Linked DNA regions of Homo sapiens: region 2 is linked to region 1. Evidence: fine-mapped expression QTL. Tissue or cell type: sigmoid colon. Region 1 holds a variant in brackets; the other region holds the start of a gene. All regions are shown on one strand. Distances are from middle to middle.

Evidence for each region. PIP is the estimated chance that this variant, and not a neighbour inherited with it, causes the effect.
Region 2: it holds the start of TSHB, and the variant in region 1 is the best candidate, but not a certain one, in a credible set for the expression of TSHB in sigmoid colon (GTEx, PIP 0.51).

Annotation. Positions count from the first base shown.
Region 1 is chr1:115,051,150-115,055,395 of GRCh38, reverse strand. It overlaps TSPAN2 (tetraspanin 2), which reads left to right. Exons shown (of 8, transcript NM_005725.6): 7 at 1,934-2,017. Among named protein-coding and RNA genes, the nearest start is that of TSHB, 23 kb to the right of the region's middle. The variant A/G (reference allele first, on the strand shown) is at 1,765.
Region 2 is chr1:115,027,790-115,032,035 of GRCh38, reverse strand. TSHB (thyroid stimulating hormone subunit beta) reads right to left here and starts at 2,210. Exons shown (of 3, transcript NM_000549.5): 1 at 2,176-2,210.

The sequences.
Region 1 (4,246 bases):
GTATCACCAACAAATTTATTACCTTTTATGGTGAGAATACAGACATTTCTTTTTAAAAAAAAAAAAATCTCTTTTCCAGATTTCTACAAGAAGCATGTATTCCTTTTGTGACTAAAGCCAATATACCTTTTGTACATTTGTTTTTTACAAAAAGAAGCTGGCAATGAAGGGAAGGAGGGCCTAATGGCAGAACTAGAGGAGGACAGTCTCGAGTGTTGTTTTGTTTGTTTTGATTGAAGAACTGAGCATGGTGATAGGATAAGTAGAAATGTCAATGGATAAGGAGAGGCTGAATGTATAGGAAGGAAAAAAAGTAACTGGCAGTGCAGGCTTCCTGAGGAGCTGAAAGACCCAAAGCAGGATATGAAGTTAACTGTCTTTTATTATTATTTATTTATTTATTTATTTTGAGACAGAGTCTCACTCTGTTGCCCAGGCTGGAGTGTAGTGGCATGATCTCGGCTCACTGCAACCTCCACCTCCCAGGTTCAAGTGATCCTCCTGCCTCAGCCCCGCTAGTAGCTGGGATTACAGGTAGGTGCCACCATGCCCGGCTAATTTTTTTATTTTCAGTAGAGACGGGGTTTCACCATGTTGGCCAGGCTGGTCTCGATCTCCTGACCTTAGGTGATCCACGCATCTCGGCCTCCCAAGTGCTGGGATTACAGGCTTGAGCCACCGCGCCCAGCCATGAGGTTAACTTTCAACAGAGAAGGGCACCTCTTTGGCTCTGATCAGAGAAAAAGGAGTCAGGAGTGTGCTTGCTACCTACAGCAATGCCTGGCACTGAAGGAAGGGAGCATCTAAGTGTATAGGAGAAGGAGAGGAAGAGTGAAAGAATTGCTATAGGTTGACTCTCATTTTTTCCACTAAGTAAGGGAGCCACTCCTTAGAAGAGTAGTTTTCAAACTTTTGTCAGAATGCATTATAGGTATCTCTTGTGGATCTGTGTCCTCTAAACTGTGAATTCCCAGAAAGCAGGAGAAACCATATCCTATTGTCTCTGCATCTACCACCCCTCTTCCAGTGACTAATGCAAGGTAGATGCTCAAGAAATGTTTGTTGAATGAATGAAGTGTGATAGGAAATACGAAGAGAGAAGTAAGGGTTTTATATAGCTCAGATGGTATCAAAGGAACCAACCAGTGACAAGTGAACAGATCTGAACAACCTGAGGGTACAGTTGGATTGAGAGCATCCCTCTACTTAAGAGCACTCCAAATAGGAGTGTTTGAAGTTGGAGAAACTAATAATAGTTACAGGTGATCTATTTGGCTTTCTGTCTAAGTTTCCCCACATCCATGAAGGCCCTTTGAATCTATGCTGCACAGGTGTCTTATGGGCACAGATGAAAGGATAGGAACTCACCCAGCACAGCCCAGCCCAGCCACCACAGGAGAGAATGGTCCTCTAGCTCCAAGACTTGGCTTTTCTAATTCTTGGCTTTCCTTTGTTTAACTTGAACCTGTTAAGACTTTTTAGTTTCTTAATAGGTCATGCCTACTTTGCATAGTAAATTGGGTCAAAGACATAGAAAGTATTTTAAACTGTAAATGACAATATGAAAACAAAGAGTTATTGTTTTAAGGGTATTTTACTTATTTGCTACAAGTAAGAAGTGGCTCCAAATTTTTAGATTCCTTGGAACCAGACAAATAGCTTCCTCCAGTTATATTTCAGGGCTCCGAAGAAGCCACTGGCCTAAACATGAAAATCTCACCCAAAGGAGAGGCTTCTATTTTTTTCCCCAAACTGCATTTTTGC[A/G]TTAAGCTTATTAGGATGATGTTATCAAAGATGAATTGTTGAAACATGAGTAGAAGCTGGCATGGATTAACTCTCACAGAATGAACTGTAGAGATGGAAAGGATAGGATCAGGATAATGACTGACACATACAATCAGTTTTTATTCCCGACTTTTTTTCCTCAAAACAGAATTGCATCGATGAAATTGAGACCATAATCAGTGTTAAGCTCCAGCTCATTGGAATTGTCGGTATTGGAATTGCAGGTCTGACGGTGAGAAAGTTCTAGAACTTACCCTTTTTGCCCTCTAAAAAGCCTTGAAACTTTGCATCTTATTTCTTTTCAAGTGTGATAGTATCTTAAGAGAGAATTCTCATAAAGAAAAAAGACCTTTGTTCACAATGTATTACATCTTCTAAGAACAAAGCTCATAAATATATTAATAGTTTGTCCTCTAAAATATAATAGAAATTTCAACTTTAACTCATTATGACCTTGAGTGTGTCATTGTTATTAACTTCCCGTTTTAAGGCTACTATCCATAACCTAGATAAATGATTTTCAGTTCTGGGTCTCTTTCTACTGTTACAAATTCAATGCAACATATCAGGTTAATCTCTCTCACCTACGATTTGAAGAGGCAGCAGAGCATAGAGATTAATAGGGCGAGCTCTGGCATCACATGGTTTGGATTTAACTCTAGGCTCCACCATTTGCAAGCTCTGAGATCGCAGGAAAATTTCTTAATTTTTCTATACCTCAATTTCCTCGTCTGTTAATATATAAACCTTATAGGATTGCCGTGAAAATTAAATGGGATACTACATATACAGTAGTATTACAAATTAATATAAATAAAGTGTCTGGGACATATAACACTCAACAAATGCCAGCTCTCTGCATAATCTACCAGGCAAAGGCAATGGCATAGATGGTATTAAGCGTAGTGCATCCAGACCACCACCAGGTGGCTCTGTACTTCTAAAGTACAAAAGAAGAGTGTGTGGGAAGAATGGATAGCAGCGGACAGGTATGGCAGGAGTTGCGAGAGGTGGTAATGGAGAGAGTATTCGATCTACATCATTGAGATCTTTGTATGCCCCTTTGAAAGGGTGGGCTTCACCCTTAAGGAAAGGGGAGTCACCAAGAGTTGGAAGAACCTGTGGTAGAGGATAGAGGAAAGGTTGGAGGGAGGCAAGATTGGATTTGGAAGGCGGGTTAAAGGATGATTTCCATTGTCCAGGGGTTGGATGATAATAGCTAATGCTAAGATGGCACTTAGTCTCTAGCCCTCTATGTAGATTAATTCATGGCCTAAACTAAGGCAAGGGCTGTGGGAATTGTGAGGAAATCAGTGAATTTGCAGTTATCAGGGGACACACAAGCGCCTTCCCCTTTTCTGTATTTAGAGCACAGAGGGGTGGAGAAGTGGCTGGAAATACTCTGCTGAGGCCCTCCAAATCAAGGGACATTTCTCAGGTCCTCCCCACCTGCTCTGGGGATAGCCTGGCTGCAGTTCTGCAGCTCCCCAAAGGACAGTCCTGAGGCAGGTCTGAGCGTGTGCTGCATAATGGAGAGTTTCACAATCTCAGCAAATGAGCAGCCTAGAAGCATTCACCCCTGACTCGTGTCGGCAGTAGGCTGAGACTGAAGGAGTCTCACTGAAACCAGGATGGGTAGGGATTACATCCAACCTTATGGCAATGATAAAGGGGAAATGCCCATAGTGAGCCTATCTTGAGTCGGCACCCCCAGGTTTCTTCGTTAGTTCTTTTCTCTGTAAAGTGAGAGTTGCACAATGTAATCAGCTAACTAAAAGTGCATTGGGTGTCGCCCGTGCTACACACTGGTACTGAGTCCTGTCATCCAGAAGCTTGAAATCCTGTTCCTGGCCATGCCCTTACCTGCTTCTGCCCCTCCCTTTTCAAAACAACTGATCATTCATATCTTATTGAATTTAGCACTTACAGATCCTAGTCTGACTTAGGATGGAATTGAGGAGAGAACCAGAAAGTTATAGTACCCATTTTTTAAAATAAGCATTGACAGTAGTTTATGGAATGGTGCCCACAGATAGGGTTCCATGGGCTCTACAAAATTGTAGGGGAAATAATAGCGGACAAGAAGACTCTTTGGCATTCTTCTATTCAAACCATGGAAGTGGATATTGATTTCACTCAAGTATTTAACTTCTCAGAGAACTATCCAAAAGGTAAAAGTCAATAATACCATAGTATAAACCCTTTAGTTTATGTTTTGCTAAAACTATTGAATTAAACAGTGAAGCATCGTTTGCCCTTAAAAATGGACTGAGAATGAAGTGATGCTCCACTTTTTTTTTCTTTTTTTGTGAGACAGGGTCTCTGTCACCAGGGAGTGAAGTGGTGCAATCACAGCTCACTGCAGCCTCGACCTCCTGGGCTCAATAATCCTCCCGCCTCAGCTTGCCAAGCACCTGGGACTGCAGGGACACACCACCATGCTCAGCTAATTTTTGTATTT
Region 2 (4,246 bases), 23 kb after region 1:
GTTCTAGTGCTCTGAAAGAGTCCAAATTAAGACTTTAAGACCTACAATTATCAAAGATTTATGTTTACTATACTTCTTATTACACAAGAAAGTAAACTAACCCATTTTAGGAAGACTTAACTTTTAAAGGTTAAAATAACAGGGGTTTTTCTCACAAATTCTTTTAAATGAAATGTTGCATATTCAAACATTCCACGGAAGGTTTGTTTGGTATTTGAGTTAAGGAGCAAAAACATACAAATTCCTTACTCATGGAATCTGGCTTTCTCAAGCGCTTCTCAAATGTGAGCTCCCTCTATGGTACAGAGTTGCTTCCAGTATTTTAGAGATACAGAACTTGATGATCCTCTGTAGGATCTTAAAATTACTAACTGGTAAATTATGTAAAATGCTTACCCATCATGGCCATTATAGTTCTTGCTTGTTTAGACAGCCAGCTACTGAGTTTTTTCTATAGGAAACAACTAACTTCACATATTTTAACTTTTAGCTCTATAATTCTGTATAAAATCAATGTGGTGACCTGGTGATGAAAATATTGGTCTAAAAATTAAGAAACAGAATTCTTCCATAAATCTATGAGAACTTGACTAAAATATATAATCTGTTTGAGTGTTATTTCCCCATCTGCAAAATAGAAAGTGACAAGTACACCTGACCCTTTTTAAAATGTAGGATGAAAATTTGTTTTGGTTTTCCTATTGTCATACTAACTATGGATACTCTATATTTTTTTGAAGTTTCTCCTATAAATGTAGAACTCTAAACTAACAAAAGTAGAAAATGGAAGTGCTGAATTACCAGCCACAGTATCTGTACAACTTTGTGGGCATAAAGAAAGCAAGAACTTTTCTTTTCCTTTACTTCTTTATTGCGAATAGTAAAACTTCACCCACAGAATCTTTCTGGGCCTCAACTTTCTCACCTATAAAAGCAGGGCTTAGAGCCAGAAGATGATCATGAAAATCTTCGCAGCACAAATAGTCTGTAATTCTATATGATAAATTAGTGTCAGATCTGATTGATTGATTAAGAGTTAGTGATCTAAATTCTACTTAAGGATTTAATTGTAATTGTGTGCAACTGAGCAATTTAATATCTTTGTGCCTTCATTTTTCCATATGTCCCTTCCTAAAATCATAAAAAGAATAAAACAATACATGTGAAACACTTGGCTCTCTATATAAGAAAGATCACATAGCTGTATAACACTGTACAAATCCGCGTTAGTTAATCCCTTCCTCTGTGATATGCCACAATTTCTTCCTCATTGTCATCTGGGTTCTCATCTTTGCCACTTAATTGCTTATTCTGAAATCACCATGAATAATTTGTTGGGTACCTAAACATAGAAGGCATGGTTTCAGGCAGGGCCTAAATAATGAGATGCCTTCTTCAGATGCATGGACATATATGTCCCTACTTTGAACGTATTTTCTTATTCCAAGATATGTTCTTTCCTTTGCCTCTTTCCTCTCTTTTTTTCTCTTATTTTTGCTCCCAATGCTTCATTCTTAATAAACACTTTCCTCTCTGCTCTGCTAATTTCCTTCATTAATTTTTACTCTCCAAATCCCTTACTATGAAAAGAACTAATTGCCCATCCTATGAATAATCCTGGAACTTCACTAAAGCAGTATATTTTTCTAGAAAGCAAAATGTACTATACAGCAGCTGTGTGTGTGTTGAACACTATCAAAGGAGGTTTAGCTATTAAATAACTAAAAAGAACTTATAATACAGAGTACATTACCCCAGCAGGTACTCAAAAATGAATTTGCTCTAACATTCCCGGAAGTACATTTTCATAAAAGATGGCCATTAGTACAGTAATTGAGAGGATTTAATACACACATCATTAAATGGACAACAATATTTAAATCAAAATGAAAACAGAAGAAAGCCATGAATATCAAATATCCTTCATTAGGGAACTAATCAGTTGTTTCTCTTTCTTTAAGTCAATGAATTTTTTCCTTATCCTTATGTAGGTAGTTCTCTCACCTCCATCTACTACTAAACAATTTGGAGCAGTAATTTAAGATATTACAGCCTGTTGAAGCAAATTATCTTTCAGCATTTGCCACTTTCTAAAAAATGATAAAATGGTGAAAGTGAAAAAAAATAGCTTAAGAACATATCATTTCACAGAGCCTTCTCACTATAGACACCTACCTTACTTTGCATTGGTGAGCAGATGCTGTGGTGACCCAAACTAAAAGCTCTTGGTTCATTTTATACCCTTCAGGATAATCCCTCTGATCTTCTTGTTTATACAATTGCATTTGATTTACTGCTTTCTTATCTGAAAAGCATCTATTGAAAATTCATACTGAATTCCAAATAAAATGTATTTAGACAAACAAGCTCACAATATCTTTACCTGGAAACTGACATTATTAAAGCATGCATTTTCCTCTCTTCTGTTTCAAAATAAAATTACCTTTTAAATATATTCTTTATTAATATTTATTTATTAATATTAATAAAAGATAGATACAGAATGGGAAAAACCAAATTCAAAAAACACTCTAACATCATCTAAATAAGTCTTGGGAATAAAAATTTATTTGGGGCTTGAGGGCTTCAAGTTTTACCTAAATGTTCATGTAAAGATATATAAAATTATTCCTCATCTAAAAATTTTGTTTAGAACAAAATGTGTAGTTCAAAATATTTTTGGGGGATTTTAAGATATTAAGTAAAATTTACACATGTGAAAGAATGACTCTGAGGAACATGGCCACATCTGACAGGATGTCAAGCTGACCTGAGATAAAATTTTGGCCCTGCCATTTACTTGCCATATGACATTGGCATGCTTGACCTCTTCAGTTTCTATTAAAAGGTAATATCACTTCTCTAATGATTTGTGGTGTGAGCATTTTTTCATATGCTTATTGGCCATGTATATATCTTCTTTTGAAAAGTGTCTGTTTATGTCTTTTGCCCACTTTTTAACGGGGTTCTTCAGTTTTTGCTTATAAATTGTTTAAGCTCCTTATAGATTCTGGATATTAGACCTTTGTCAGATGCATAGTTTGCAAATATTTTCTCCCATTCTGTAGGTTGTGTGTTTATTATGTTGATAGTTTCTTTTCCTGTTACATCAGGTAACAAAAGTACACGATCCTAGAGAGATGGGAAACAAACAGGGAGAAACTGCCTGGAGAAAGTTTCTGGGCCATAATGCAGAAGCCCTTTAGTTAAAGGTCCCATTTGTCAACTTTTGTTCTTGTTGAAACTCCATTTGTCGTCTTCGTCATGAAATCTCTGCCCGGTCCTACATCTGGAATGATATTTCCTAGGTTATCCTCGAGGGTTTTTACAGTTTTAGGTTTTACATGTAAGTCTTTAATCCACGTTGAGTTGATTTTTCTATATGGTGTAGGGAAGGGATCCAGTTTCAGTCTTCTGCATATGGCTAGCCAGTTATCTCAGCACCATTTATTGTACAGGGAATCTTTTCCCCATTGCTTGTTTTTGTCAGTTTAATTGAAAAAAGAATGATTGTCAAATCAGGCAGCCCTCAGAATCAGAAGAGATTCACAGAGCTCTGCTCCTCAATGTGGGCAGACAGCATTTATGGACAGAAAGTAGAAATGAGATATCGAAACAGCTTGATTTCATTATACATCAGCACTTGCCTTACTTGGACAAAGTCTGATCAGCTGGCTGCCTGTAATTGACTGAAGCTCAGCTGCTGTGATGAGCTGAAATTCAGCTGTCTGTTACAAAAGTATACTCCTAAGTTAGGCTTTCAGGTAGTGTACATACTAAGTTAGGTTGCAGTTCATTATGTAGGAACTCACAAAACAGAGGTATCCTCAGGCCACATTTAGTTTAACAGATATATACCTAGAAATGGCCATGCCAGGGTCCAAGGTCTTGGGAATGTGAGCTACTATGTAGTAAGATAATTTTGAAAACAGGGAAACTGGAAATGAGTGTGCCAACCTAATTTCAGACAAGATGCTAACACAGGAATATGATAAATGGAAGAATGTTGGATGTGTGTTTCTAATGGAATTAGTGCCTCCTTTGTATAAAGCATTGATTCAGGAACTCATTTTCTAGCGGATTTATATACCTATCCCTGGGAGATATATGTATGTATGTGTGTGTGTACATATGTAATGGACAACTGATAGACACTTGGCCTGTTACTAAAAGAACTATAATAAATACCATGCATTTGGGTAGTGATTTTCTTGCTAAAGAGGCCTTAGTGTATATGATCTCATAC